Linked DNA regions of Homo sapiens. The protein of the gene in region 5 purifies or fractionates together with the protein of the main gene of each other region. This does not show direct contact. Each region holds a gene or a part of one and is shown on either strand. Other genes may lie near its edges.

What was found.
Region 1: the proteins of SLC15A3 (region 5) and RABL3 purify together in Homo sapiens (affinity purification with mass spectrometry; 2 studies listed by BioGRID and IntAct, with this or other methods). This does not show direct contact.
Region 2: the proteins of SLC15A3 (region 5) and ATP2B1 purify together in Homo sapiens (affinity purification with mass spectrometry; 2 studies listed by BioGRID and IntAct, with this or other methods). This does not show direct contact.
Region 3: the proteins of SLC15A3 (region 5) and RRP1 purify together in Homo sapiens (affinity purification with mass spectrometry; 2 studies listed by BioGRID and IntAct, with this or other methods). This does not show direct contact.
Region 4: the proteins of SLC15A3 (region 5) and RRP12 purify together in Homo sapiens (affinity purification with mass spectrometry; 2 studies listed by BioGRID and IntAct, with this or other methods). This does not show direct contact.
Region 6: the proteins of SLC15A3 (region 5) and PGAP4 purify together in Homo sapiens (affinity purification with mass spectrometry; 2 studies listed by BioGRID and IntAct, with this or other methods). This does not show direct contact.
Region 7: the proteins of SLC15A3 (region 5) and NOM1 purify together in Homo sapiens (affinity purification with mass spectrometry; 2 studies listed by BioGRID and IntAct, with this or other methods). This does not show direct contact.

Annotation. Positions count from the first base shown.
Region 1 is NC_000003.12:120,696,736-120,701,243, forward strand, and holds part of RABL3 (rab-like protein 3), read right to left. Parts: intron 1,839-4,508; coding exon 1,688-1,838; intron 1-1,687. UniProt on the Homo sapiens protein: Required for KRAS signaling regulation and modulation of cell proliferation. Regulator of KRAS prenylation, and probably prenylation of other small GTPases. Required for lymphocyte development and function. Not required for myeloid cell development.
Region 2 is NC_000012.12:89,600,144-89,604,651, reverse strand, and holds part of ATP2B1 (plasma membrane calcium-transporting ATPase 1), read left to right. Parts: intron 1-305; coding exon 306-497; intron 498-726; coding exon 727-940; intron 941-1,397; coding exon 1,398-1,609; intron 1,610-3,218; coding exon 3,219-3,326; intron 3,327-4,508. UniProt on the Homo sapiens protein: Catalyzes the hydrolysis of ATP coupled with the transport of calcium from the cytoplasm to the extracellular space thereby maintaining intracellular calcium homeostasis.
Region 3 is NC_000021.9:43,795,729-43,800,236, reverse strand, and holds part of RRP1 (ribosomal RNA processing protein 1 homolog A), read right to left. Parts: intron 2,816-4,508; coding exon 2,686-2,815; intron 2,607-2,685; coding exon 2,542-2,606; intron 2,331-2,541; coding exon 2,137-2,330; intron 668-2,136; coding exon 588-667; intron 1-587. UniProt on the Homo sapiens protein: Plays a critical role in the generation of 28S rRNA.
Region 4 is NC_000010.11:97,373,074-97,377,581, reverse strand, and holds part of RRP12 (RRP12-like protein), read left to right. Parts: intron 1-3,687; coding exon 3,688-3,752; intron 3,753-3,844; coding exon 3,845-4,007; intron 4,008-4,381; coding exon 4,382-4,508.
Region 5 is NC_000011.10:60,941,618-60,946,125, forward strand, and holds part of SLC15A3 (solute carrier family 15 member 3), read right to left. Parts: intron 2,220-4,508; coding exon 2,072-2,219; intron 529-2,071; coding exon 418-528; intron 1-417. UniProt on the Homo sapiens protein: Proton-coupled amino-acid transporter that transports free histidine and certain di- and tripeptides, and is involved in innate immune response. Also able to transport carnosine.
Region 6 is NC_000009.12:101,473,914-101,477,173, forward strand, and holds part of PGAP4 (GPI-N-acetylgalactosamine transferase PGAP4), read right to left. Parts: intron 3,257-3,260; 5' UTR 3,180-3,256; coding exon 1,968-3,179; 3' UTR 1-1,967. UniProt on the Homo sapiens protein: Golgi-resident glycosylphosphatidylinositol (GPI)-N-acetylgalactosamine transferase that catalyzes the N-acetyl-beta-D-galactosamine transfer from an UDP-N-acetyl-alpha-D-galactosamine to the 4-OH-position of the first mannose of the glycosylphosphatidylinositol (GPI) of a GPI-anchored protein (GPI-AP).
Region 7 is NC_000007.14:156,955,538-156,960,045, forward strand, and holds part of NOM1 (nucleolar MIF4G domain-containing protein 1), read left to right. Parts: intron 1-3,068; exon of another isoform or gene 3,069-3,319; intron 3,320-4,313; coding exon 4,314-4,508. UniProt on the Homo sapiens protein: Plays a role in targeting PPP1CA to the nucleolus.

The DNA.
Region 1 (4,508 bases), on a different chromosome or scaffold from region 5:
CTTTGGAAATAATGTTCAAAGTAATCTCAGCACTTCTTCAACAAGAATATTATATATCTATATAGCAAGAATCCTTTGGAATATCATGGTTCAGTGCTGACTACCTGGGGTATGCACATCAAATATTCCATTGTGGCAGCTGAGAAAAATGAGGGGCTCTCCGCTGCAAAGCAGAATGTAAAAAACAATGGAATGGCAGGCAGAAGCTGGGGGTAGAGGTGGGGCTGAACCAAGCAGTGTTCATAAACATTGATTCATAGAATAAAGGCATCAGAAGCACCTGAGTTATTTGTTAAAACTGCAGATTCCTGGTCCTCCTGCCAGGCTTGATGAATAAAAAGCTCCAGCTGTGGGACGGTTATTCAAAATTTTCCATAGGTACTATTGGTAATATAAATACACAATCAGATTTGGGTAACTGTTGGTCTAGATGATTTCTAAGAGTTTTTTCAGCTGCCAAATTCTCAAGGTGAGTTGAAGGATTAATTAAGTGCAAAAGAGGCTTAACTGTAGAGCACAGGCTCTGAATCTGAATACCCTAATTGACCTGGGTAAACTTCCTTGGTCTTGTTACGTCTCTCCTTCTTATCTTTAAAAAGAGGATAGTAATAGTACCTGTCTTATAGAGTTGATTGTGAAGATGATGCATGTGAGATAATGTATGTAAATAACTAAAACAGTTTTCAACCCGTAAGTGCTCAATAAATGTTGCTCACTAGTACTATTACACCACCACCACTGCATTTCTGGAATGCCAGTGCACAGTTGCAGAAATCCTATTTGTGAACAACATGACCATGACTGAAATTGCTGGCCAGGATCTTTTTCTGGGATCCTAACAGGCTTACATGACAACCATTTCTTAGCTTTTTTACGCGCTCAGTTCTCATTGAGCTAGTTATCTCATCAAGGGACTCAATCCTCTATATATGCATAAGTGTACATAAATTAGTCCTTATGAAGCACTCCTAGTTTAAGGTTTGCAATTTTTTCATGTATTTGTTACGTTGCCCTTTAAGGTAAAATTTGTAGTTTAAGAAGCTAAGAGGCTTTTTAAAAGCAAGAATAATATGCTTATAGTGCCACTTTAATCAATTTATTTTAATTTTGGTGTGATTTTAAAAACCTTTCTCAAGAAAAAGCCCATGGGCCAGGTGCAGTGGCTCGCGCCTGTAATCCCAGCACTTTGGGAGGCCAAGGAGGGCAAATCCAGTCAAGAGTTCAAGACTAGCCTGGGCAACATGGCAAAACCCCATCTCTACTAAAAATATTTAAAAAATTAGCTGGACATGGTGGTACATGCCTGTAATCCCAGCTACTCAGGTGGCCTAAGCATGAGAATCGCTTGAACCCAGGAGGTAGAGGCTGCAGTGAGCTGAGAACGCGCCACTGCACTCCAGTCTGGGCGACAGAGCGAGACTCTGTTTCAAAAAAAGAAGCCTATGATTTAAATTATTCATAGAATAAAGTTGGAACATTCCAACAGACCAACATAAAAGGCTGAAGTGACTGTGCACATCTCTCAGTCTAGATATGTTGATTCCAATCTTGACTACGTTTAGACTAGAATCCAAATAGCCTGATTTCAAGTATAAAGCTTCTTTCACTAGAATATATTATTTGAATATGTCTTCAGTTTTGTCTTTACCCGATAATAATACAAGCATGCATTAGTGAAAATACATACCAAATTAATTTCTTCTGGATTGAAATCCTCAGCCAGGAAAGCAGTCCTAGTTAAAACTTCATGGCGCTTTGTTTCATGAATCTGGTCCAGTTTAGTCCCTATTACCAACAGTGGTATTTGGTTATCAGCAAACTGTTCTTGATCATAATCCCTGTGATAAATAATAATGAAGAGGTGAATAGAATGTATCTTTCTGGTGTAGATGTGTAATATTTAAGTGCAACTAAGTTACACTATTTTACTGAAAATTAACTGATTTTTGCTGCCTTCACCTACAAACCTACTTTCCTTCCAACTTCTTCCATCTACTTGTTCTTTTATCAATCCATCCTCATCATCAGATTCCAGCTATTCATCTAACTTCTCAAAATTTGGTCCCATGTTTTTATTGAATATTGAACAATACTGAATAATTGAACAACTAAGTGCCCATCAAGTATATTACAGTCAGTGGACTTAACTTCCAATGTAGCTGTGTCTTCTAAGGTTAACATAACAGCTCAGGAATATTTCAGAGTAGAAGCAGAGAGTGGATTTAAGCCTCATCGTAGCAAAAACCCAAAAGCCTAGCATGGCACTCAAGCCTTGTGCTAGAAGAGAAAATGGCAAGCTTCTTGGGTACCTTTTGGGGTATGCATTAATTCTATATCTACAATACACATTTCTGTCTGAATAGTAAAGAAATAAGAAGAATAAGAAAATAGAAATAGGGAAGCTGAAGCCTAGAATAAATCAAATATAGGTGATACTATAGCCTGGGAAAGGTGGATTAAACACATGGAAATGGAAGGAAACAGCTGAAATGCAAAATGAATAGTAAAAGGAAAGAACTTAGTACCAAGTAGTTGTTTCCTGAAATGAGAGCCATGGGAGATAGAGGACGGGCAATAAGAACCACTTAGGGTTAGTGGCCTTGGATCACTGGCTATTACAATCCTTATTTTTTAAAAAATTTATTTATCCAAAGAACAGAGTGGTGATGTAAATGATACTTCTCATTACTGAAAAGAACACAGAGGCCATTGCTGTTGAATTAATTTAAATTCTACTCACATATTAGAAATAAAACAGATTTGGATTTCTGACACGTTATAAGCTCAACTTACAACAGTCAGCAAAATCTGGTTGTGCACAATTTATGACAGTAAATCAATATTGCATAATCCAATCACTACAACCCAGTCGAGCATAGCTTTTTTTCTTCCTTTAACACTACTTTTCTTTCTCTTACAGAAATTCTAAATTGGGGTAGGGGGCAAAGTTACTAAGTATTTATGCCCTTCACAATAATCTTACAGCGCCTCAGCAAACTGTTCAGCCTCGGAACACAAGTGTTTTACTATACAACCTCCCATCTCACAAAAATATTACCATTCTATTTATTGCATCAAAGCCAATAATAGCATGATCAAGACCTTTGATTATTCATATCAACAGCAACTCTAATTAAAGAGACATGGTTCAAAGCTACAATTCGCTTTGTTAGGGAATGAAGTTTTGAGAGTGTCTTTCCTTTAGGACTGTTTCCTTCTGTCTCACATACAAAGTTTTGCATATCTTCTATCAAATATCATCTTTGATGTACATACATCTCTCATATAGTCTTGCACAATTCCTTGCACACTGACACATATAAAGCATACATATATAGTTTGCTCTCTTATTTCTCTTTTTAGCTTTCCTTTTAACTTTTTCATAAAATCTTGCAGCATCCAATTTAAAATTTAATCTTGAAATCTTCTTTGGTAAACTTCTGAAGAACTTTATCATGGATGGATAAGGCTGATAGCTCCTTAACATCACAAAGAGACACACAGCCAGGTATCATATTATATGCATAATACTGGGTGGAAAAATAAAGACAAAAAAACTTGCATCTTTCAGACCACTATATTTAATTATCACTTCAGAGAAGATTTAGAATTCAGAGAAACAAGTTTAAAAGACAATACAGGGAGACAATCAGCAAATCCAGAATATAGGAAACTGTACAAGACAAACAGCCATCTTCTTCTACAAATAAAGTGCTAGGAGGTTGGAAAAAAAACAACCAAAAAGGGAGAACCTAAGATTAAAAGATACTTAAGAAACCAAATACAACCAGTGGACCTTATTTAGATACTATTTCGAAAAAATCAATTATAACATTTATGAGACAATTGGGGAAATTAAAATAATATTTGGTTATTAAAGAATTATTATTAAAGTTTTAGCTGTGATAATTATATGGTGTCATGTTAAAAAAAAGCCCTTATGTTTTAAAGTATATATGGATGAAATGATATGATGTTTTAACATTTGGTTCAAAATAATCCAGTTGAGAGTGGGAGAAGATAGAAAGTGGGTAGAGATATGGATGAAACAAGACTAGCTATATGTTGATAATTGTTGAAACTAGGCAACGGGTATATGGGAGTTCATTTTCCATTCTTTGTATTTACATATGTTTAAAATTTTCTATAATAAAAAGTTAAAAAAAGTTATTGTGGTAAAAACTACATAATATAAAATTTACCTAAATTGTTTAAATATGGCTAAAAACTCAAACTGATATAAAAGATATATGCTAAGCAGTCTTGCTCCTACCACTGTACCCATCCACCCATCTCCCCTGGCCCCCTATAGGTTACCATTTTTATTAGTTTCTTATTTTTCACTGATTCTTTATCCAAATATAAATACATATTATTTCTTTTCTTTCTTATACAATAGGAGGTATACGATATATATTCTCTGCATTTTGATTTGTTAAACCTAATAATGTACCCTCTGTAGATCTTTCTATTTTAGTTCATAGAGATCTTCCTGATTCTTTTTTAAA
Region 2 (4,508 bases), on a different chromosome or scaffold from region 5:
TATTAACAGATACCTTTTTGTGTGGCTTTTGGAAGGAACTTGGGTAATGTCTTTGTTCATTCCTCCATTTTTAACCCAACTTGAACCTTATTTTTAATACTTCATTCTTTGTTTGATTTCTGCTAAACCAGAATGTCTTTCCTAGTAATATCTTAGAATAACTCTGTTACCTTCTTTTAGTGTAAATTTAAGTAATATTTATTAGGTATAATGGTAAACTTTTTGTTTATTAAGTGTGTATTTTTTGACTATTTGAAAGTTATACTTAAAACATTTAGTCTAATTCACAAAATTTTTTTTAACAGGGTATTGCTGGAACTGATGTAGCTAAAGAAGCATCCGATATTATTCTCACAGATGACAACTTTACAAGCATTGTTAAAGCAGTTATGTGGGGACGAAATGTCTATGACAGCATCTCAAAATTCCTTCAGTTCCAACTTACTGTTAATGTAGTAGCAGTGATTGTTGCTTTTACGGGCGCCTGCATTACTCAAGTAGGTGATGACTTGTCTATCAAAACTTGTTTACTTTAAATTTAAAAAGTATATTAAATGCCTCTTAAAAAATACTTAATATTTAAGCTGAAGCTTAATATTTTAGGTTAGTTAATATAAAAATATAATCCTGTTCTGTTTCTCAAGTTTTTAAACCCTAAAGGTTTCCTGAGAATTGCTGAGCCCCTGAGTAGTTGTGAATGTCTATTAGGAAACATATCTTTTCTAGGACTCACCGCTTAAGGCTGTGCAGATGCTGTGGGTAAACCTCATAATGGATACACTCGCTTCCCTGGCTCTGGCAACGGAACCACCCACTGAGTCTCTCTTGCTTCGGAAACCTTATGGTAGAAATAAGCCTCTCATCTCACGTACAATGATGAAGAATATTTTGGGTCATGCATTCTATCAACTTGTAGTAGTCTTTACACTCTTATTTGCTGGTAAGAATTCAGTGTCTAATAAAGCTTCAGTTAATTGTTTCTTTTCCAAGCTAATCATCCAAGATGTTATAATGTTACAAATTTTCAAGAGCCTAAATTCTACTCCTGACTTCCCATTTATCTTTAATTTCTTCTTAATCAGTGAGTGCTTAGTAAATTTGGGAGGACAATAAGCTAGATAGTAGAATAAACAGGAGAATAAACAGTCCTGATGTCTTACCCTGGCTCTCCACTAATTTAGATATGTGATCCTGAGATTATCACCATAGTTTTGGGAGCTTCTGTTTCCTTGCCTATAAAACAAGAGAGTTGTACTAGATAATCCCAGGTTTCTCTAGCTCCTTCCATGCTGCCATTTCAGATCAAATAAAAGGTCTAGCTAAGTTGTAATTTGTATACCTCCTTGAAATCTAATTTGGTATGATAATTACAAAATAGTCATTTTTCATTCTTTCAGGAGAAAAGTTTTTTGACATTGATAGTGGAAGAAATGCTCCTTTGCATGCTCCTCCTTCAGAACATTATACTATTGTTTTTAATACCTTTGTGCTGATGCAACTTTTCAACGAAATAAATGCCCGGAAAATTCATGGTGAAAGAAATGTATTCGAAGGAATCTTTAACAATGCCATCTTCTGCACAATTGTTTTAGGCACTTTTGTGGTACAGGTGGGTAATTGGAAAAGATAGTTTCAAATTTGCCTGTTAAATGGGAGACATTAGGTAAACAGCTTGTTCTAGCAATCACTTGTGTGGAACATGTGTGGAACTGTTGCCTTGGTGACATATATAATATCATGGTGATTTAAGGTATATGTTAAAGAATATGGGAACTGAATCTCCTGTTCTTAGAAGTAAATGCCACAACCAACTAGACAAACAGTTTTATTTCTTCCAACTGTAAAGTGAAAGATATTATTTCTTAGGAAACAAAGTCAGCCAATCAATTAATTGTTTCCCAGCATTTTAGTATTCTTTTTACATCCCACATTATACCAAAAAAAAGATCAGGTTTAAATTTTAAAAAAAATTAAGATCACTTGTACAAATACATATTGAATTCTTCATGCTCATTATTTTCTTGATTTATAAAAGAAAATTACTTCAGTTTTATATCTCTACTAAAATCCAGACCTGATTGTCAAATCAGTTGTAATCTAATTGGGCTACTAACAAAGCAGTTGGAAATCTATCTGTACAAGTGCACAAATTAACTTAAAAAATAGTGGAACCGAGAAGTGAAAATGACTTGAATTTGAATAAAGTAGAGCTAAAAAGAAAGGAATTGTAACTTTAAGGTTTTAAAATGTTAACTACCAAAATTATTTTTGATTTTAATATTTGGGAACTAGTTAACTGCCATATCAAAGAGAGGCCTGTCAGACTCACAGGAGGGTGAATATTGTTAATTGATTCTTTTTTTAAAAAATTATTTATTTTTTAATTAAGACAGGGTCTTGCTATGTTGCCTAGGCTGGTCTTGAACTCCTGGGCTCAAGCAGTCCTCTCACCTCAGCCTCCAAAAGTGCTAGAATTACAGGTATGAGTCACCACACCCAACCCCAGTTAATTCTTAATATTTCCATGCACACTATTTTAGGCCTTTTAGAATAACAAGCAAAACATAAGCACTGTATTATGAATTTATATTCATCATCAGACCTCACTCTTTTCATAAAGGAGAGCAAATCTGAGATCACCTCACCTGAGTTAGCCCATATTTCATAGAACTTTCCAAGTTGCCTTTCTTCTCATATAGTCTGTGTTTATCTTAGTATGTCTAAATGTTAACTAGAAATAAACAGCTATGTGGAATTTTTTTAATATTGTGCATTTTTCCAGTAACATACAGTCTTTTCTACAAAAGAGTACTATATTTTGAGAAAGGCACAGATTATTTGAAGAGTTGTACTAAATACAGGGGAATGTAGTTGCTTGGGGTTATATTGGAAACAGTATAAAATTATTATTCTTGGTCATAAGAATTTTACTTTTTAGTAAGCGTAATTTAAACATGAAATACGCATGCATCAAAAATATTGGGCAGAGATTTTACTTTATTTCAGTTGTCTTTTTTTCTAAGAGGCAAAGTGGACTGGAGGGGAAAGAGGAAAGGTCTATTTCAGTTGTCTTATTTTCAGTTGTGACTAATATAATACAATTCATCAGAATAGTGGTTGTTCACCTTGTTTTAGAGGACATAAATTTGATATTTTTTTAAGTATATGAATTTTAAAATTTAAGATTTAAGTAAATTTACTCTTGATTATTCCTCCAGATAATAATTGTGCAGTTTGGTGGAAAACCTTTCAGTTGTTCAGAACTTTCAATAGAACAGTGGCTATGGTCAATATTCCTAGGAATGGGAACATTACTCTGGGGCCAGGTAAAAATTTCATCAGTTTTTGTTTAAACCTAAAGTGATTTTTTTTTTTAATTTCTAGTGTGTATTTTCTTTAACAGTTTCATTACTTGATTCTAAATGGTTAATGTGGTGAGTAAAGAGAGGGCATTCAAAGATAAGTTTTTTTAATGTCGTATTAGTTCCAGTATGTCACTTGTTCATTATGATTATGCCTGTACTATAAAATACTATCCTAACTTTTTATGTGTTTTTTTAACTTGTTTTTTAGAAGTTTTGTAGCGGTTTTTAAAAATGATGTATTTATAACTGGTTAGGATGCTAATATCTGTATCTTTTACTCTATAACCTATTTTTACATTTTCAGAAAAAAATTTTTTACAACAATGTAAAAAATACATGGCCGGGTGCGGTGGCTCACGCCTGTAATCCCAGCACTTTGGGAGGCCGAGGCGGGTGGATCACCTGAGGTAAGGAGTTAGAGACCAGCCTGGCCAACATGGTGAAACCCCGTCTCTACTAAAAGTATAAAAATTAGCTGGGCATGGTGGCAGGCGCCTGTAATCCCAGCTACTTGGGAGGCTGAGGCAGGAGAATCGCTTGAACCCAGGAGGCAGAGGTTGCAGTGAGCCAAGATCGCGCCATTGCACTCTAGCCAGGGAGAGAAGAGCGAGACTTCATCTCAAAAAAAAAAAAAAAAATACATTGTCATTTTGTTCTGTAATTTAATCCAATATGCAGCATAGGAAAAACTGACCTTAGAGAATGTTTTTATAAAAATAATGTTACCTGGAAAAAGGGGTCACAAAATGATGTTTTAGATTTGAATTGAATAGCTTTAACAGTGTATATATGAAATAAAGTGCCTGAAATAAGAGATATACCTCATATTTACTATAGGCAGCTTACTTGCAAATGCATGTCATTATTTTTTAAATGTGACAGTGATTTATGCATTGTTCATTTTAAGCCCATTACTATAAAACTAATTTATAGAAAATCTAACATTTTCATAGATGAAGGTTAATATATATTATGGCATATAATTTGCATGAGCTAATTTATTGTCATTCTGCAAATCAGTGAAACCAGACTTTCAGGTTTTCCTTAAATGTAGCCCAATCTTTACATCTTTGTGTCTCTTCTTTTTCTTAACTATGTTTCTAGATTCTGAGGTTTCTTATCTATTTTGAGTACCTCATTAAT
Region 3 (4,508 bases), on a different chromosome or scaffold from region 5:
GTAGCCTGCCTGCAGCTTTACCACTCTAGGAACCACACAGACAAGCACGAACAACATAGGTTAAATTGATCAATTTTAACCCAAGATAGCCACATTTTATTCAGTCTGCAGATAATCATATTTAAAACTTAAAACATTTAAGTTTCCAATTTGCCTGAAGTCAGACCCCACTGGCTGAGTGGATTCCTCGCTGGGACCCACAGGCCAGCCGCTTGGCACATGCCATCTCATTCCCCACCAGCACCCCAACGAGGGGGCCGCAGGAAATCTGGGGGGCTGCCCATGTGTGAGGCAAGAGGACAGCGTGAGGTGAGGCCAGCCCTGGATAATGCAGTTCTGCCTGAGCCCACCCTCCCAGGCCCCAGCCCCACTTTCCCAGGCCCCAGCCCCACTCTCAATGATCCCACTCGTCTACAGGCGGGCAGGGTTGGGGCACCCATCCCTCCTTCAAAGCTAACCCCTGTCCGGGTAACTCTCCATGCCAACAGCTGCCATCCTCCCTCCTAACGCCCCCCTCCTCTTCCAGAGCAAGCGGTAGCACAGAGGGGCAAAGGCTGAGGGCACAGCCATGAGCCCAGGGAACCCACCTGGAGAACGGGGCCGCCACTGTCCCTGTCGTCACCTGCCTGCTCCTCACCAGCCTCAGGTTCAGCCCTGCAGATGGAGCCTGGAACAAAAGGGACCCCGTGAACCCTACCTGTGCCCAACGTGTGCTGGCCCCAAACATCCAGGAATGGAGAGCCCGCTCCGTGCACCCTGGTCGGAGCACGGGCACAGGCGGGAAACACCCGGGAACGGACAGCCCACCCTGCACCCTGGTCAGAACATGGGCACAGGCGGGAAAGCCCACAGCTCAAGGCAGATACTAGGTGCCATGTGACCTCTAATCTCGTATGGACAGGATGAGAGGTGCCACCTCAGGCCTGCAAAGGAAAAAAAGATGTCCCAGGGCACAGGTGCCTACACAGCCCTGAGTGGCTGACTACAAGCTGGCATCTTGGGCAACAAAGGCCATGTCAAAAGTTCTGGAAGTGAGGAGCCTCAGGGTGGCCTGGTCCAGAAGCTGTGGGAGCTGATGTTTCGGCTGGGTGCTCGAGCTAGGCTGGGCATTTGGGGCTTTGATGGCACTGTCTGCAGAAGAAAGGTTTTTGGGCAACAGGCAGCTGTGGGGCAGCATGTGACAAGGGTCTGCTCTGTAGCTGGCAGCAGGGGGCCAGCAGCAGGCACTAGCGGACCTGCCAGGCACCTCAGCTACTGAGAGAGAAGGGCAAGGCAGAGACCAGGGAGAAGCATACAGGGTGGCCGGGCCAAGTGCTGGGGGCGGTGGGGAGGGGGTCTTCTGATTAGGAAGCCAAGGGGAACAGTGGCCACAGCACTGATTTGGGGCATACTGGGGTCCTGAGCGTGGTCAAAGACATGCCCTCCACAGCACCAGGATGCCACACTTAGAGCTCAGACCACCCAGCAGGCTCGGACAATGAGTGCAGCATCAAAACAAAAAATGGGCCAGGCTGGACCCCACGGCTGCCCACAGAGGCCTCTGGCAGGCAGTGAGGGGCAGGTGAGTACACCTGCCCCTCACACACACTGCACACAGAGCAGTCAGGTGCCCTGAGGTCTCAGGCCTGAACCCAGTCATGGTCAATATGGACAGAGCTTGCTGTCCTCTGGGGAGACGGGCCAGGAACGAGGAACACGAGGAGCAAGTGATTCACATCCCGTGCCACAGAGTGACGCTATGGGGAGGACTGCGTTGGGGGCTGGGAGAGGCCAGGAGGCTGAAAGAGTCCAGCCCCAGAGAGTGATGGGGGGAGAGACGGTGGGAGGGACGGAGAGACTCGGCACCAAGGCAGGAACGAGTCTAGGGGGCCAACTGAGCCAGAGGCATGCGTTAGACCGAGGAGCCCAGGGGTCCGGAGAGGGCGTGGAGCACATCAGAGGCTGGGGGATGAGGGGAAACGACGTGTGCTTGGTGCCCACAGAAGTCACTCTGGCTTCTATGCTGAGGATGGACTGTGGAGAGGGGCAGAGACAAGGGGACCAGGTAGGAGGTGGCAGGAGCAACCCAGCAGGAGATCGCACTGGCTCAGCCCAGGACAGGCCCCGAGGAGAAGCCAGGCGCAGTGTGACCCCCACCTGCGGGCGGCTTCTCAGACCTCTTCTGGGACAGCGCGTCTCCACGCTCACCACCCTCAGAGGACTCATCACTGTCCGACGCCACCTCCTCATCCTGTGTGTCCAGTTCATTCAGGAGGTCTTCAATGGCAAGCGGGGCCTGCTCCACAATCGTCTCAAAGATGCCTCGAGTGATGTTGTTCAAAACCAAGGAACTGAGGGGCAGAGCAGAGGCCGGTGAGCAGGCCCGTTATGCTGGATTCCCAAGCGGAAGCCGCCGACTCCCCTGCAACCTCTCCCCACCCACACGGCCAGCGGCCACTCTGAGACAGATTCATCCCTCGAGGGAGCAGCACCCCCACAACAGCAGCCCCATGGAAGAACTCAGTGAAGGAGTCGGGCCCGATCAGGCCACCCACCACTTACTCCTTGGTCCGGGCAGCAATTCTGCAGAAGGGGTCGATGAACTTCAGGTTCTGGTCTGCCGTAAGCTACGGGGAAAGCCAGCGGGAGCTCAGTTCCTCCTCCACAAACGCCCAGCTCCACCGCCCCGTCGGAGCCCAGCCTCACCTCCTCGGCGCCCACTTTGGTCAGCTCCTCCAGGAAGATCTCGATGAAGTGGCTCTTCACACCGTTGGGGGCCTGGCTGCTGGGGTGCAGGATCTCAGTCATCAGCAGCTCTAGCAGCTCCTCGATCTGTCTGAGGAAAGAAAAAGCAAACATGACAGGCAGCCTCGATGAGCCCCAAGACAGCCGTGCCCCCCACTCTCCCATGGTTACACGCTCTGATGGGAACCTAAGTGCGGGCAGGCGCCACTGTCTGCAAACATGCCAGCCTTAAAGTCCACGCAGATGATATCAACGATCCTAGGTCTCCTCCAGCGCAAGGCAGTCTTGCAGTTAGGGAGTTATGTGACCAGCACCACCACCAGAACGTATGGCCTGAGTGTGCATGTCAGCTACAAAATGCAGCACGTGTAAACATTCAGACAGGCCTTCCCTCTGTCCTCAAGATTGCTAGCAGAGAGAAAGGCTTGGCTGAGACGAGACGCCCTGCCTGGTGTTCCTCTCCACTGCCTCCACTGGGTACCGCTGGGGAAGACACGTCAGGACAGCACAGGCAGAGAAAGGAAGGTGGAGGCCCAGAAAGGGGCCGAGGACCATGAGCCACCTGCTGGCTTCCTGGGCCCTGCCGCACGACGCATTCCAACTGTGACGTCCACCAGAGCTCTCCCTGGCAGGCGGGTTTGATGGCATCACAGGCCCTGGATCTGAAGACTAGACAGCCCCAGAGAATAATGTGTAGCACCTACATGCATCTGGACCTCCTGGGGTGCTTAATAACGCAGCTGCCTAACTCAGATCTGTAAACTGTGTGATCCTTAGGAAGCTCCGTAGCAAGGCTGGAGAATCACTCGTGATGGAAAGGAAAAGTGATGCTCTCTAAGGCTCAGGAAAAACGAGACAGAGGCAAGAACAGGTGCTGAGACCAAGAGGAAGACACACAGATGCAAGGGACCGACTTCCCAGGCCAGTGGCAATGGCGTGGATATTAATGACAGCCTGGTTATGCCTGCAGGAGATCCAAGAGGGCGGGAAGAGCGGACCCCACTGTCAGCACTGGGACCGCAGCAGGCATTGGGGGAAGGCACCGAGGTCTTCCACATGATTCCTGTGCTGAATTCTCAGTTACAGGGAGAAAAGTACTCTTGTAATAATATGCCAAAAAAAGTTAACACAAGTAAAATCATCCCTTTAACATTTAATTCAGCTTAAGCCATGAGACCCCTATGGGGTAATCCACAATGCTAAGGCCCAGAATGAATGAGACTCCTGGCATCAGAGTCCTGCCAGGGAATAGAAGAATGAAAATCCCTCCAAACCAGAGGCACCGCTGCCCTAAATGCAAAATCACCCATGCAACTCAAACCTAGAGAAACTCAGCAGCCACAGTTCAATTCCTGCTGATTCTTTAAAAAAAAAAAACAAAAAACCAGAATCTCACTCTATCACCTAGGCTAGAGTGCAGTGGCTCAGTCACAGATCACTGCAGCCTCAAACTCCTGGGCTCAAGAGATCCCCTTAACCCACCATAACCAGCCTGCTAATTCTTTTCTATGCATTTATCTAATTTTTGTACTTTTAGTAGAGACACGGTTTCACCATGGTGGCCAGGATGGTCTCGATCTCTTGACCTTGTGATCTGCCCGCCTCGGCCTCCCAAAGTGCTGGGATTACAGATGTGAGCCACCGCGCCCAGCCAATTTACATATTTTTAGAATTAGGAGCAATTAACATTGCTTACAACTTGGGAGGCCTAGGCAGGCAGATTGTTTGAGCCCAAGAGTTTGAGACAAGCCTGGGCAACAGGACAGAACTCGTCTCTACCAAAA
Region 4 (4,508 bases), on a different chromosome or scaffold from region 5:
TGAGCCACTGTGCCAAGCCTGTACATACAATTTTATTGAAACACAGACACATACACATTTATTCTTGTTCTGTCACCCAGGCTGGAGTGCAGTGGCACGATCTCAGTTCACTGCAACCTCTGCCTCCCAGATTCAAGCGATTCTCCTGCCTTAGCCTCCCAAGTAGGTAGGACTACAGGCATGTGCCACCACACCTGGCTCACTTTTTAAAAATTTCTTGTATTTTTAGTGCAGATGGGGTTTCACCATGTTGGCCAGGCTGGTCTCAAACACCTGACCTCAGAAAATCTACCTGCCTCGGCCTCCCAAAGTGCTGGGAGTACAGGCATGAGCCACCATGGCCAGCCTGTCACACTACTTTTTAATGACAGAGTTATTGTGATAGAAATCATACGTACCGTGGGCTGGGCACAGTGGCTCACACCTGTAATCCTAGCACTCGGGGAGGCCGAGGTGGGTGGATCACCTGAAGTCAGGAGCTTGAGACCAGCCTGGCCAACATGATGAAACCCCATCTCTACTAAAAGTACAAAAATTAGCCAGGCATGGTGGTAGGTGCCTATAATCCCACCTACTCGGGAGGCTGAGGCAGGAGAACGCTTGGACTCTGGGGGGCGGAGGTTGCAGTGAGCCAAGATCGCACCACTTCACTCCAGCCTGGGCAACACAGCGAGACTCTGTCTCAAAAAAAAAAAAAAAAGAAAAGAAAGAAATTGTATGGCCTGCCGAGCTTAAAGTACTGGTCCTTTTGCACAAAAAGTTGGCTGACTCCTGGTCTAGGGCAGTGGTTCTCAACAAGGAGGGTGATTTTGCTGCCTGTAGGACATTCAGCAATGCCTGGAGACATTTTTGGTTGTTACCGTTGGGGGATGGGTGCTCTGGCATCTAGTGGGTAGAGGCCAGGATGCTGCTAAGCACCCTGCAATGCACAGGACGACCTCACACAACAAAGAGTACTAGGCCCAAAATGTCCACATTGTCAAGATTGAGAAACCCTGCTCTAGGGCAGTTTCCTGATTTCACACATGATCTTGTAGAATATACAGGAAGTGCTTAAAGAAGAAAGTAAGGCCAAGCGCAGTGGCTCGTGCCTGTAATCTCAGCACTTTGGGAGGCTGAAGCGGGCAGATCATGAGGTCAGGAGTTCGAGACCAGCCTAAACAACATGGAGAAACCCCGTCTCTACTAAAAATACAAAAATTAGCTGGGCATGGTGGCACGCACCTGTAATCCCAGCTACTTGGGAGGCTGAGGCAGGACAATCGTTTGCACCCAGGAAGCAGAGGTTGCAGTGAGCCGAGATGACACCACTGCACTCCAGCCTGGGAGACAGAGCGAGACTTCATCTCAAAAAAAAAAAAAAAAAAAAGAAAGTAAAAGTCATTCAGTCTTCCCACCCAGAAATTGTTACTACTCAAGTTTTTAATGTATTTTCCTTTGCTTTGTTTGGGTCGGTTTGTTTGTTTGTTTGTTTGTTTTGAGACAGAGTCTTGCTCTGTTGCCCAAGCTGGAGTGCAGTGGTGCGATCTTGGCTCACTGCAACCTCCACCTCCCAGGTTTTCAAGCAATTCTGCCTCAGCCTCCTGAGTAGCTTCGTCTACAGGCGTGTACCATCACCCCTCGCTAATTTTTTTATTTTTAGTAGAGACAAGTTTTCGCCATGTTGGCCAGGCAGGTCTCGGACTCCTGACCTCAAGTGATCCACCCGCCTTGGCCTCCCAAAGTGCTGGGATTACAGGTGTGAGCCACCATGTCTGGCTGCATTTTTTTCTGTGTAAAAATAGTATTGTATTTCTACTCTGTTGGAATTAATGTGCACATATTAGTAACTTAAAGTTTTTCCTGATATTAAAAAGGAAAAATTTGTTCTATTTTCAATAGAAATATATGCCCATCAAAGAAAATACAGATGAACCCCCAAAATGAGGGTCATTACCATCATTAATGTTACCTATAAACCCTGGCATTATTCTTAAGGCTGATGTTATGTATTCCCTTTGTCCTGGTAATACTACACGCAGGTATCTGTCCTGAGAAGATAGACAAGTGCGTACTGATTTATGTTCCTAGCAAAGACGTGCCTGACAGTATTGGCTTATACTGGCAAAAACTGTAACACATCTAGTATCTTTCTCATTAGGGTTCCAGTTAAATTAGTTATGGTAAAGCCCTACTTTTGGCCAGATGCAGCAGCTTACGCCTGTAATCCCAACACTCTGAGAGTCTGAGGCAGAAGGATTGTGTGAGGCCAAGAGTTCAAGAACAGCCTGGGCAACATAGCAAGACCCTGTCTCTATAAAAATTTTTTTTTTTTTTTTTTAGTTAGCCAGGTGTGGTAGGCTCACCTGTAGTTCCAGCTACTTGGGAGACTGAGGAAAGAGGATTTCTTGAGCCCAGAAGTTCAAGGCCAGCCTGGGCAACAGAGTGAGACCTCCGTCTCTACAAAAATATTTTTTAAGTCCCACTTTGGGATATGATGTAGGCATTATAAAGAAAGAAAGAAACCACTAGGTAGGGACAGACAAGTTTAGCAGATGGTGAGTCGAACAGACACGGTTTATATCCCAACTCCGCCGCTCCACAGTTCGTGGCTTGGGGCAGGTTTTGTTTAATTTCCCAGGGTCTGCTCCTCATCTTAAAATGGGCAAGTTTTGTGAGGATTAAATGAAAAAGTCATGTGAAGTGCTCATTACAGACTACCACATAGTACTTGCTCAGTAAATGTTACCAGCTTTATTGTCAAGTAAACAAGGTTACAGAATGCTATATATATAGTATATTCCTCCCTATGGTTTTTTTTTTTTTTTTTTGAGACAGAGTCTCGCTCCGTCACCCAGGCTGTTGTGCAATAGCACGATCTCGGCTCACTGCAAGCTCCACCTCCCGGGTTCACTCCATTCTCCTGCCTCAGCCTCCCGAGTAGCTGGGACTACAGGTGCCTGCCACCACTCCCGGCTAATTTTTTGTATTTTTAGTAGAGACGGGGTTTCACCATGTTAGCCAGGATGGTCTCAATCTCCTGACCTCATGATCTGCCCGCCTCAGCCTCCCAAAGTGCTGGGATTACAGGTGTGAGCCACTGCACCCAGCCCCTGTTTATGTTTTACAAAGTGGGCATGTGGCTGGGTGCAGTGTTGCACACCTGTAATCCCAGCACTTTGGGAGGCCGAGGCACATGGATCGCTCAAACTTAGGAATTCGAGACCAGTCTGGGCAACATGGTGAAACCCTACGTCTACAAAAAGTTAGGTGGGTGTGGTGGCATGCACGCCTGTAGTCTGCTTCTTGGGAGGCTGAGGTAGGAGGATCGCGTGAGCCTGGGAGGTCAAGGCTGCAGTGAGCCCAGATTGCGCCACTGTATTCCAGCCTAGGCCACAAAGTGAGACCCTGTCTCAAACAAAACAAACAAACAAAAAAAATTGGGCATGTGTTTAAAGAAGTATAAAAAAGTAACAAGAAACAGAGGCTATCTCTGGGGGAGTAAGAGTATGGAGAGACGTTTGCTTTCTGTTTATTATAGGTTCATTTGAGTATTTTAGAATGAACAAGTATGATTTAATTCATGGAGATGGGGGGAAGTCACCCATATTCCTGTCCTCATCATTGGGCTTTTGGTTTGGTTTGGTAAATAAGGCTGTTGGCCAGGAGGGTGCTGGGCTCACACTCTGTCCCTCTGTCACACTGCAGCCATGGACCTGGCTCAGGCAGGCAGCACAGTGGAATCTAAGATCTACGACACACTCCAGTGGCAGGTAAGGGTCAGCTGGGGGAGGGCGTGGGGAGAAGCACACAGGGGCACAGGTGGCTGCGTGTCACCTTCCTTTATTGTCCCCTCCTTCTCCAGATGTGGACACTCCTGCCTGGGTTCTGCACAAGGCCTACAGATGTGGCCATCTCCTTCAAAGGGCTGGCACGGACGCTGGGCATGGCCATCAGCGAGCGTCCAGACCTGAGGGTCACCGTGTGCCAGGCCCTGCGCACCCTCATCACCAAGGGCTGCCAGGCAGGTACGTGTGGGCTGTGGGAGTGGGGGCTGGGGAGGATGACACAGGTCCCTGGCCCCATCCCCTGGCTTGCTACACTCCTTGCCAGGCAGAGCCACAGAAACTCACCTCTGGAGCTCATCCTTTGCTGCTTCTGCTGCAGACCCCAGGGGATAACTTTGCTGGCTCCCTGGGGTTGGAGCCATCGAGGACCATGGGCCACTGGGGCACCAGGCTCTCCATGCCCTGGCTCAGCTTCTGCCACAGAGAGCCCCAAACCCATGGATTCCAAGTCCTGCCAGCTCCCCCAAGAGAGGGCCTCTGGGCCACAGCCCCAGCAGCCACTGAGGCACAGTCAGCTCCTGTGCCTTTAGTGCAAACTTTGATCCTTTTACCAGAGGCTGACCGTGCTGAAGTGAGTCGCTTTGCCAAGAACTTTCTGCCGATCCTCTTCAACCTGTATGGGCAGCCCGTGGCAGCCGGGGACACTCCAGCCCCTCGCCGGGCTGTGCTGGAAACCATCAG
Region 5 (4,508 bases):
CCAGCTCTGCAGATCATTCATTTCATGAGTCTGAAATGCCAAGGAACTGGTTTAGAAAGTTCTGGGAAAGGCAGAGATCTAGGTATCTAAGGGTCCCAGAGAAAGAGGGGACAAGGAAGAGTTGAAAAGGGACCTAAGTATGCTTGATCTGAGGGTGCAAATTAGGCAGCGAGACCTGCTTCAGAGCAGCAGCATGGGGGTGTGCAGCTGGCCTGAATTCCTTCAAGCAGTTGAGCATCTTGGCAGGATCCCTGCGCTGTGACACAAGTCCTCCCACCCTCCAGGTGCTTTTCCTGTATCCTGAGGTTGCCTTGCAGGCAGGAAAGGGGAGTGTGAAGGCAGTTTCATTTCCTCCTCTTCTCAGAGGAAGCCGCTACCTGGCTGAACTGGGTGCCGAACACATGCTTTATCTCTCACCGTGTAGCTGCTGCCCTGGGCTCTCAGGGCCACAGAGATGTTGGCCGGGTTGGCTGGGAAAATGTTTGGGATGTGGAGGTGAAGACCCTGCAGGACATAGGTGGACTGCATCTGCCAAGAGAGACAGGGGTGAGGCTGGAACAGAAACGGCCATGCCCCCTCCCAACTCCTAGGTGGCATTCCTCAGCGCCGTACCACAGGACAGCTGGGCAGCTGTCCCCTCTCCCAGTCTCAGGGAGATAGTCACCTTCCCACCCTCCTTTCTCCTAGGTAGCTGGGCTGGGCAGGGAGCTTCCTGTGCTCTGCTCTCAGGCCTGTAGGCAGTGCGTGCAGCCTTATCCCAGAGCCCAGGCACAGCTGGTCTGACTAGTATTTGTGTCCCCAGGGCCCAGCACAGGGTAAGCATGGATAAATGTTTGCTGAAATGGGAAAGATAATGGCTGCCCCCACAGGGAGTTCTCATCTGACACTGAAGCCAAGCTGAGTCCACAGGTTGACACAAGCACTGCATAGACATGGACTTGCCAGAATGGCTCTGGACACAGCTGCAGGAGCAGGGCCCAGGGGCCACCTCCAATACCACGCACTGCCCCTTTAGTTGCTATATAATGGAGTAGGATCCAGGAGACTCCCACAGGAAGGGCTGGGGCAGGGGAGAGCATGTGGACTGCTCAGGGCAGCAGCCATTTACCAACTGGTATGGAAGGAAGTCAGTATCTGATTGGTATGACTGAGAATCAGCCATGGACACCCTCCCACCACATGCCGCCATCTCATCATAGAAATACTGTGTGCCCCTAAGTAGCAGGCTGGGAGCTCCAACAAATGTTCCTGTGAAGGGGGTATGGAAGGCAATGACCTTATGGCCTGGGGGCTAGCATTAAGCTGCTGCCCACCCTCCTATCACACACACACACACACACACACACACACACACACACACACACACACACAAACACATCACTAACCTCCCCACTGAGGAGTAATATGGTGAGTGGAAGACAATAGTTCTCAACTCTGAGTATCTGTATCATCTGAAAAGTTTCTTAAACTAGAAACTTCCCCAGCAATTCTGATTCAATAGCCTGTGGTTGGACTTGGAATCTGTTTTTAAAACAGCATATTTTTAAAAGCTCTGCCGGTGATTCTGAAGCACAGCCAGGCTGGGGAACCACTGTTGCAAAGTACTCACTTTTGTGAGCTTGCCCCTGACCTGCCTGCCGTGGGGCCTTGGGCAACTGACACACCCTCTCTAGGCCTCAGCTACCAAGTCGGACAATCTGAATGCAGCAGAGCTGGAAAAGCCTCTCGTTTAAGCCACCCATTGTACACATGAGGAAACAGGCCCAGAGAGATGAGGTGACTTATTCAAGGACCTAGCCTGGCACAAAGCCATCCCAGTAATTCAACTCCCGCAGGAGGTATAGCAGGAGGAAGCTGTCTCCAGAGTTCCTCTTGCCGTACCACCGAGGGAGTTGGATTGCTGAGACGGCTTTGTGCCAGGCCCCATGCTAGCTGGTACGGGGCAGCACCTCACTTTATTCCCAGACTTTCCCCCTTTCCACATGCCCTGGGCCTCTGTGATGAGAAATGAGGCCATTCAGATGGTGAGTGGGGAGCCAGGCCCCCAGAGAAAAAGGGCAGGTATGCTCACCTGGAAGTAGACCATCCAGTAGGGCACCAGGGTCACCATGACGGGCAAGATCTTCACCAGCACCTGGAAGTTGGCGATGTCCTCTTGCGGGGAAGCCCCTGGCTGGGGAGACCTCTCGTCGGCCAGCACGCGGGCACATTGACGGTCTCTGTGAGACCCCAGAGGCAGCAGATAAAACAACAGTCAAGGCTGGGCTTGGTGGCTTATGCCTGTAATCCCAGCACTTTGGGAGGCTGAGGCGGGTGGATCACCTGAGGTCAGGAGTTCAAGACCAGCCTGGCCAAGATGATGAAACTCCGTCCCTACTAAAAATACAAAAATTAGCCAGGCTGTTTTGGCGTGCACCTGTAGTCCCAGTTATTTGGGAGGCTGAGACAGGAGAATTGCTTGAACCTGGGAGACGGATGTTGCAGTGAGCCAAGACTGTGCCACTGCACTTCAGCCTGGGCAACAGAGCCAGACTCCCTCTCAAAAAACAAGCAAACAAACAAACGCAGCAGCCATAATCTTCCCCACCACCTCAGCCAACGTTTTCACTTCTACCATCACCCCCTAATTTAATCCTCCTCCCAGTATCAGCACGTCTCTGAAATCAGTACCCTCATCTCCTCCACCCCGCTGTTAGCACCACCTTCGCCATCATCACCACCATCGCCAAGGCCAGCATCCTTACTATCATCACCTTTAGTAAGGTGACTGCTGTCAGCAAAATCGTCCTCTCCACGGGGTTTCCATTCACATCACCATCACTCTTTTTCAATGTTGGCACCACTACTGCCAATATTATTCTATCCTCTCTTTTGCTGCAAAAGTGCCTAGCCAAGACTCATTCCGCTCTAGAGCTGTGGCCCCTCTGAGTCCTGAGGGAAGTAAGACCAGAGACTGTGGAAAACAGTCTGAAGGGATTTTTTGGCTCGTAGCATCAATTTGCCACGGGAACCAGGGGAGTCCCAGTCCAAGCCTGACTCAGAGAGAGACGCTGTCACAGATTTGATACACCAAAATTCCCCCCCCTTGCTGTCTCAAGTCCATCCTCCTCAACAGTCAACATGGCAACCCTCTCCCTCCATGACAAGGCATAGAGAGTGGAGAGGTGGGGGTAGAGGGAATATCAGTAGGCGACAAGATTGATCAATCACTGCTGCAGCCTTTACCCTTTGCCCTTTGCCCTTTGTCCTGAGAGCTTTCTGACCTCTTTTTGTCCAAGAGCCTTGCACTGTCCTTTGAGATTCCAAAAGGGACAATATTAGTGTAGTCATCTCCAAAGACAGCCACTGTCAACTCCACCCTTCCCAGCGTGTGCTGCCATTTTGCCACCAACAGGTGGAGTTTACTTTCACTGCCATTGTTTCCCTGCTGGCCTTGTGACAGCTTTGACCTGTTAGAATGAAGCAGAAGTGGTGGTCTGGGACTTCAACGCCTCTTAAGGACCTTAAGAAGACCCATAACTTCTGCTTTCTTCCTCCCCGGAACATTCATTCTTGGAAAGCTCCCTCCTCTTGGAACCCTCACACGACGCTGTGAGAAGTTCAAGCCACATGGTAAGACCACACGAATGGGAACCAAGGTGCTCTGGTCCACACAGTCCCATCTGAGCTCACAGCCAACAGCCCACATTGACTGCCAGCCATGTAAGTGAGCAGACTCAGAAGTTCTAGCCCTTTCCAGGTCCCAAATGACTGCAACCCCAGTGCCATCACGAGAAGCAGAACGGCCCGACTGAGCCCAGTCACTCAGAACTGGGAGAGGAGATAAAAAGGTCATTTAAATCACTAAGCTCTGGTGTGGTTTGTTAGGCAGCGATAGGTAATGAAAACCACCACACTTCTCGGCTCCTGACAACTTACAAACCTCTAGCAATATGCCAGACTGGGGAAAGCATGTTCTTCACCTTTTTCATTTAGATCCTATTGACAGGAGCTGTAACTGGCTGCAAGGTCTGGAGACAGATTTGCTTGGCATAAGTAGACAGTTAATTTAGGAAGGCGAGGGGCAAAAGGAAGCCATGGGACCTATGCAAGGTCATTCAGAACCTTCCTCCTTTGGATGTCAGCTAATGAGGAGGGAGCGAGTTTGGCCGATTTCCTAAGACGCTGTGATGGTTAGTAACAGGGTAATGTGGAATTATTTACATTGTATCCTAACAGCCTTCATTGGAAACATCATCCCCATCATCCTCTCCTTTAATGCCACTGTCATCCGCATTGCCAATGTTTGTGTCTTCAGTGTAGATACCAACACCATCATCCTTATCCTTACTACCATCTTCACTGTCAAGACCCTGATCATCCTCACACTTCCTTTTTTTTCATTTTTCTTTTTTTATTTTTTTCCTGTTCTGTCACCCAGGCTGGAGTGCAGTGGCACCATCATGGCTCACTCCAGCCTCAACCTCCTGGACTCGATTGATCCTTCTATGTCAGCCTCCCAAGTAGCT
Region 6 (3,260 bases), on a different chromosome or scaffold from region 5:
CTCTGATCACTTTGGACATTGCTGGGGGATACATAACAGCTCACTATAACATTACAACACATACTTATATCTGTTTGCTCCTCCAAACTAACATGACAATGTGTTTCTGCCATCTTAGCTTACAGAGACATGATCTAGTTCAGCTTATACTCAGATTTTACAAAAGAGACTTTGACCACATAGATATTCATAAAATTAATGTGGTTAAGAAAAAAGTGCAGGGGCTTGAAGTCAGAAGAGCTCCGTTCCCATTTTGGCTATGCTGCTGTTCAGGTTTGTGACCTGCAGAGCAGTTTAGCATCTCTGGGTCTCAATTTGTTCATCTGTAGAGCGTGGGTGATCAACCTTTATGTAATCCTTCTGTGTTGAGTGGGTCTCAAGATGGAAGCTCACTATGGGAATTTAAAAGCAAACTGTGGCATCGAAACAAACTGGACAATTGCTTGAACTCTAATATCATCATCCATCCTCATAAAGTAACTTGTTGGTCACTAGTCTGACAGTACTGTTAAAAGACATTTATTTGTAACTTTTGAGAAAATAATTTTCAGACTCTGATCTTAGAATAAGCTCATGAGGAGTCTCATTTCCAAGCTGGAGATCATTTCCAGTTTGAATGAACAATTCTTCTTTTTGGCTTGGGTGAACGTGGGGATAGGTGAAAGCTGAGCTGCACATCCTTCAGAGGTCACAATGAAAAGTCAGTCTTTATTCTAGCAGGGCTTGGTCATCTGGAATAGCTGGTACATAGGTGGCAGCTCCATGCCCTATCTCATACTTTAAACAACATCACCAATATCTTTTTCCGAAATAAGCTTGAGTTGTATATGTTTATTATAGGAGAGAAAAGTTTGCCAAGCGTCTTCTATGGACTAAGCACTTGCTAGGTGTTTTACATATATTCTGCCATTTAATCCTCAAGGCAACTTTAACATGTAAGTATTACTGTCCTCATTTTACAGGTGAAGAAATTGAGACCCAGAGTGATTATATGACCTGCCCAAGGTGGTCACGTCGTTAGGCCATGGCAGAGATCTGAAATAAAAGGTCAGGTCTTCTGACTTCAGTCCATGATTTTTTTTTTTTTTTTTCTATAACATCATGCTACCTAGAAGAAAAAGAAATGAAGGTAAGCAGTCAGCCAGGAAAGTCAGGAAAAATGATATGCTACTTGTAAAGAGCTCCCCTATATTGTATCATTCTGAAATGTCCAATTTTCAAAGAGTCAGAGTAGTACAGAAATGTTCAATGTTAAATCACTACTCAACATAAGCAATCTGACTTTGATGGTTCACAAGCTCTTCCAGATCTTGTCGTGCCTTAAAGTTCTCACTAACAATATCAATTATCAGTGCACTACAGATATATAGGAAAAGAAAATCCCAGGTAACAGAAAAGCCAGATCACCTGCCTCCAAGATGCCGGGCACTGCACGGCTTTTATCAGTTTTTATTACATCAGGTCAAGGAAACAAATGGAATCTATCCACATGGTCCTGCCTCGTTGGGCATATATTCTAAACATACATCCATTTTCATACCCAATGAGAAAGAACTCAATTCCAAAGGATCTCACCTTTCACAAAATTCTACCCTTAAGATCCTAAAACAGTCATATCACTGTGCACAAAATTTTTGGCAGTCACAAGCTCTAACACAAAGCAGAGCTTAAAAACAAATGGAGAATATAATCAGTGTTCAAATGCACCCTCACTGGGTGGGTCAGACTGCATGAGGCAGTGTGGCTGTGTGGAGGGAGAGGTCCGGACCTGTGGCAAACTGCTGCTCCTGCCAGGAGGCTACCAAAGCCAAGGCTCTTAACATATTGAGGTTCCTCAGCTGCCCCAGTGCCTATATCTCTAACAACAGTAAACAGTGAAATACCTGCAGGCAACCATGTCTAAATAAAGAGATAAATATTTGAATCTTCAAGAAGTGGCCAACTTCAGAAAGGCATCTCTTGGCACCCTAGAGGAGACTGGGATGAAAGTTGTACCGGAGACTGGAGAAGAGCCCGATGTGTTTCACGAGGTTCGGCTCCACTACATAGGCCCTCTCTCCCTTGGCCCTCAACAGCGAGTACAGTGCCATGTCCTTGCCAAAGCCCTTGTGGCAGTACACTTGGGACAGGTAGGTGAGGGTCCGGCGGGCCGCAGGTGCCGGGAAGAGCATGGCTGGGGTGCAACACTGAGAGGCAGGAACCACACTGTACAGGGAAGGACTCAGCCGCCGCAGTTCCAGGAAATAGTGCCGACCCACCAGCTCCACCAGACCCATGCTATACAGGGAGAAGAAGAGCATTACAGGCCAGCTAAACCCTGGGCGGCTGGCAAACCTCATGTATATCCAGGTTAGTAAGGGCCCCAGCAACATGCCTACACCAACCCATTCCAGGATCCGCATGGGCTCTGGATTGATGTAGTGCTGGAGCCTCTCGGGGTGATACAGCTTGAGATAAAGGGCATCTCTGAGATGTGGCTCAGAGAAGCGAGCCCGCAGAAGGTGCTCCAAGACTGGGAAGATCTGCTCTTCTGGTACAGCATCGTCTTCTACCATCAGGACGTAGTCTGGGTTGTAGGTCTGCAGGGATGACTCCAGGCAATAGACATAGTCCTGCTTCTCTTTCTCAAACGAGTTGGTCGAAGGGTCATCACCATAATCATCCTCAGTGCCCTCATAGCGATTGGCCACAGGGACATACTTGGAGAGCAACTTGGCATCAAAATGGCTCACACTACGCTCCACGTTGCACAGGAAGAGTTGGTGCCCCTCGCACTGGGGGCCACATTGCTGAAGAAGCCGGTGGAACTGGGACACAACCTGCAGGACGTAGTGGAAGCCAGGCTGCCTGTCCACAGTGATGATGGTGATCACCAGCCAGGGCCGGGGGGTGGCCTGCCAGACAATGGGCACTGAGCCATTGGCAGAGGGAAGCTCCTCAAAATAGTGGAGGGCAGCCTCACCCTCTTTCAAGCTTTGCTGCAGGAACTCTTGGCTCATTTGGTTCAGATGCCAATGGCGCAGATAGAAGTAAGAGTGTAGAAGTCGGTGACAGGCCAGGGGGGCCAGCAGGCCAAACGTCACCACTGTTAGGATGAAGAGCTGGACAGCAGTGCTGCCCCAGGAGAGTCGCCGCAGCCTCCGGAGGAGCATGGCAGCTGGAGAGGTTGAAGTGCTCATGAGGTCAACTTTTGTTCATGTCTGGTCCCAAGAAAAAACCATCCTGGAACTCAGGCCAGAGTCATCAGAAATCAAACCTAA
Region 7 (4,508 bases), on a different chromosome or scaffold from region 5:
AAAAATAGGCCACAGCAGCACAGCATCCCTAAAAGTCTAATTACCTGGTGTACGTTTATATACTTTCGTCTCCTCCTCACCTTTAATCCTAAAGTGTCCCGGTGAGATCAGGGCAGACCTTTACTGAAGCTTGCTTTGCAGTGCAGCAGGCAAAGCCGCTGAAGCGCTATGTGAAATTCCCAAGATCACGTCTTGTTAAAAGTACACAGAACTTGTTTTCTGGGCTCCTAGGCAAGCATGCTTTCTACTGCAATGCTAGTCACATTCATTTCATTTTTATATTACTTTCTCTCAATTATAATCTTAACAGTTATTTAGAGTCTTACCAAGTGGGGCTCTCCAAAGCTTGCTTTAAGATGCACATATTTGCCGGCCGGGCGCGGTGGCTCACTCGTGTAATCCCAGCACTTTGGGAGGCCGAGGCGGGTGGATCACGAGGTCAGGAGATCGAGACCAGCCTGGCCAAAAAGGTGAAACCCCGTCTCTACTAAAAATACAAAAAAAAATTAGCCAGGCATGGTGGCGGGCGCCTGAAGTCCCAGCTACTCCGGAGACTGAGGCAGGAGAATGGCGTGAACCCAGCAGGCGGAGTTTGCAGTGAGCCGAGATCGCGTCACTGCACTCCAGCCTGGGTGACAGAGCGAGACTCAGTCTCAAAAAAAAAAAAAAGATGCACGGATTTGCCAAAATGAAGTAGCCTTCTTGTCACTGGGGCTTCTGTGCTGAAGGCGGCATGGGGTGGGTGGAGATGCTGCCTGAGTACAAAACATGCTGTAACGCGCACGGTCTGTGTCACTTAGATGAACTTGTGCCTCCGAGTCTTCCTGTGTCCAGTCGTTAAGGTCAACGAGTTAGTTCATGTAATAGGCATAGGAAAGAGCTGGCCCACAATAAGCGCTCATTGAAGGCTCATTATTTATGTACAGAAGGAGATTTTCGTGTTTTAATTCTGTTCTTCCTCTGGCTGGCTTTTCCTACCACTGCTGATTTCTTTGTTGTTGCTAGATAATGTTCTGATCCACATTTTTCCATGTCTAGCAGTAGTTGCATGGTGGCAGCTTTTTGAAAGGCCTGTGGGGCATTAGGAAGCTGAGGGCTGGAGAGAGGGGCACAGGCCTGAGCATCTGAGTGCGGGACTCTTCTGAGCTACATGGGTCATCTCAGATATGAAAATCTGCACCAGCTGCTTTGGGAACCCTCTTGTTATTTTTTATTTCTAAGAGCTGTCCTCATTTTCATGTATGAGCATGTGGGAGTCTGTTTTCTTGTCATTACAAAGTGATGGAATCACTGGGTGCCATTCCTGGGCCCTGTGATTACCATAATCAGGGCCATTCTGTGACTTTCTTGGTACCTCCCTGTCCTCCTAGAGGACACTGGTATGCTTCAGCTGACTTAATCATCAGAATGATCTTAGTATAGGCAGTATCTCAGTGAGTTACAGGAAAAGCCACAGACCGTGACCACCCACAGCACATCAGGAATTTACTTGATTGGAAAACATGAGATAATTGGGCCTACTTTCATTTAAACCTTTGCTAATTGCATGAAGGACAATGAAATGACTTGTTCCGAAGGGAAGTCATTACAGTACTTTAGTTAATGACATCCACAGAAACTTCTGCCAGCGTGTGATGAGCTTTCAGGGTGCTGGCTCCATTCAGCTGCTTTCAGTCCTGTACCGAGAAAAACATTCTGTGTTAAAGACGATGGTGTCAGCTGCTGAATTGCTTCTGTAAGTCCTTTAAAACTCAAAAACCCAATCTATGTAGATTCATGTTAAAATTTCCACATCAGAGTTAACGTACAGGATGTGCTTGAATAACTTTACCAACGTGAATTTTACTTATATTCTTAAATGTTATGCTGTTATATTTTATTTTGAAGACATTAAATGGAACTTCAGATTTAGAATTTTGAGAAATTTTGATGTAATATACATAATTGAAAACATACAGCCGGGTGTGGTGGCTCACGCCTGTAATCCTAGCACTTTGGGAGGCCGAGGCGGGTGGATCATGAGGTCAGGAGATTGAGACCATCCTGGCTAACATGGTGAAACCCCGTTTCTACTAAAAATACAAAAAATTAGCCAGGCATGGTGGCAGGTGCCTATAGTCCCTGCTACTCGGGAGGCTGAGGCAGGAGGATGGCGTGAACCCAGCAGGCGGAGCTTGCAGTGAGCCGAGATCGCACCACTGCACTCCAGCCTGGGCGACAGAGCGAGACTCCGTCTCAAAAAAAAAAAAAAAAAAAAAAAAAAGAAAAAGAAAATATACATGAATATGTTTTATGCCTAAATTTTTATTGACGTCTGCAGAATTCTAATTTACTTTTAAAAATTATATTTGACTATAACATGGTTGCCATAATAGAATGTGTCTTCCAGTTTATCTTCATTGAAGGGGCTTGAATGGAAACTACAGGTTGGCTTGGTTAAGTCTCAGGTCTTTACAAACTGAAGTGTATATCCAGTCCATCAGAGCTGGCCTCCAGGAAGTCACTGTGGCCTCCCGCCAGTCTGTTGCCTTTCTCTGGATTCTTCTAGCGTTGATTTCTTTGCAGTCCAGCAATGATGTCTGTGTACTTCCCCATACACTCAAGACTGTCTGGTGGATCTCAGCCTTGCCTGCGATTTTCACTGACACCCTTAGATCTCCATCCAGTCCTGTCTGGATGGCCCCTGTTGAAGCTTAATAACCCCTGAGCTGGTCTTGTCCAGCCCCACTAGCTTGCTGCCCCTCACGTAGTTCCTGGTTACCCAGACCAGAAACCTGGGAGTCACAGATCCTTCAGCTTTTACAGCCGGTGTCACACACTGCCATGCGTTGCTGTGTTACCCAGGCCCTTCATCCCTGGTCCAGCGCAGCTGCGTTATTTAGGCCATCGTCTCCTGGCTGGGCTGTGGGGGTCACTCTTTGTCACCACCATGTCCCTGCTTCCGCCTTCTCCCTCCAGTCCCAGCTTAAGTTGAGATTTGACGGAAAATGATGACACGGTAGTGTTGCCAGCAAGACTGAAAACGACTGTTTTCTGCCTTCAAGTTTTATTATCTCTCTTTTACACAGTGAAAAAACAGGGTTCCAGGAACTTGCTGAAGACCACACAGACCCACATGCAGGTCTTCTCATCCTTCAGTCCACAGTTACGGAATTCGGGATAAAATGTACCAGAACAGCACAAGGAGAACACTTAGGCCTTGCTTAGCTCCACCAGGCCCGGCAGTTCCTGGCCCCACTTCCGCCCCTCAGGGCAGTGTCTGGTTTACCTGCTGGTCCCCATCAGGGCCCAGTGCCCCTCAAACCACTGGCTGAGCCAAGTGAGTGTATTCACAAGCTACCTTAGTGCCAGAGACTCAGCCCTGGGAAAGTAGGGCGTCTCCTCCGTGCCACCTGGAGCCCTTCCAGAGATTATTAAGTACCTGTCTATTTGGCAACCTCTGATATTCAGAATGTGTTGCGTTTATCTGTTTTAGAAATCACTCGTATTGCTTCCTTGTAAGAAATGAATTTGGGGTAAAAATCTGCAAAAAAATCTTTTAAGAAATGAATATTGTTAGGTAGTGGAACTTTTTTTTTTTTTTTACACAGAGTCTTGCTCTGTCGCCCAGGCTGGAGTACAGTGGCGCAATCTCAGCTCACTGCAACCTCCATCTCCTGGGTTCAAGCGATTCTCTTGCCTCAGCCTCCCAAGCAGCTGGGATTACAGGCATATGCCACCACGCCCGGCTAATTTTTTGTATTTTTAGTAGACACGGGGTTTCACCACGTTAGCCAGGATGGTCTCGATCTCCTGATCTTGTGATCCACCCACCTCAGCCTCCCAAAAGTGCTGGGTTTACAGGCGCACACCACCACACCTGGCTAATTTTTTTTTGTATTTTTAGTAGAAACGGGGTTTCACCGTGTTAGCCAGGATGGTCTTGATATCTCCTGACCTTGTGATCCACCCACCTCCGCCTCCTAAATTGCTGGGATTGCAGGTGTGAGCCACCGCACCTGGCCAGTAGTGGAATATTTTGAGAGACATAGGTGTGTTTTTAACATCATTTTTAACAGTTTTATTTTTCCAAGGAGTCAGAATGGCTGCTGGCCAAACAGTGCCCCTTGGTTGTTGATTTTAACAAGAGGAAGGTGCCCTTGCGTCCAGGCTGGGGCACTCTGGCCGGCTGCTCTGGGTTGCCGAGGGATGCCTTGTTGGAATGCCCTGCCTTGTGGCACTTTGTTAATTTAGAAAGTGCCAGTTCTGTGTGTTGAAGGAGAAAGGAAGGTTTCTAGGAATAACATAATCTTTTTTCTGTGTGGTTCTTTCAGGTCGGTGCCCACTTTCTGGAGGCAGTGGTGAGGAAGTTCGATGCCATCTATAAATACGGAAGCGAAGGGAAAGAGTGTGACAACCTGTTCACCGTCATTGCCCATTTATACAACTTCCACGTGGTACAGTCTCTCCTCATCTTCGACATTTTGAAAAAACTGATTGGAACTTTCACCGAAAAAGATATTGAACTG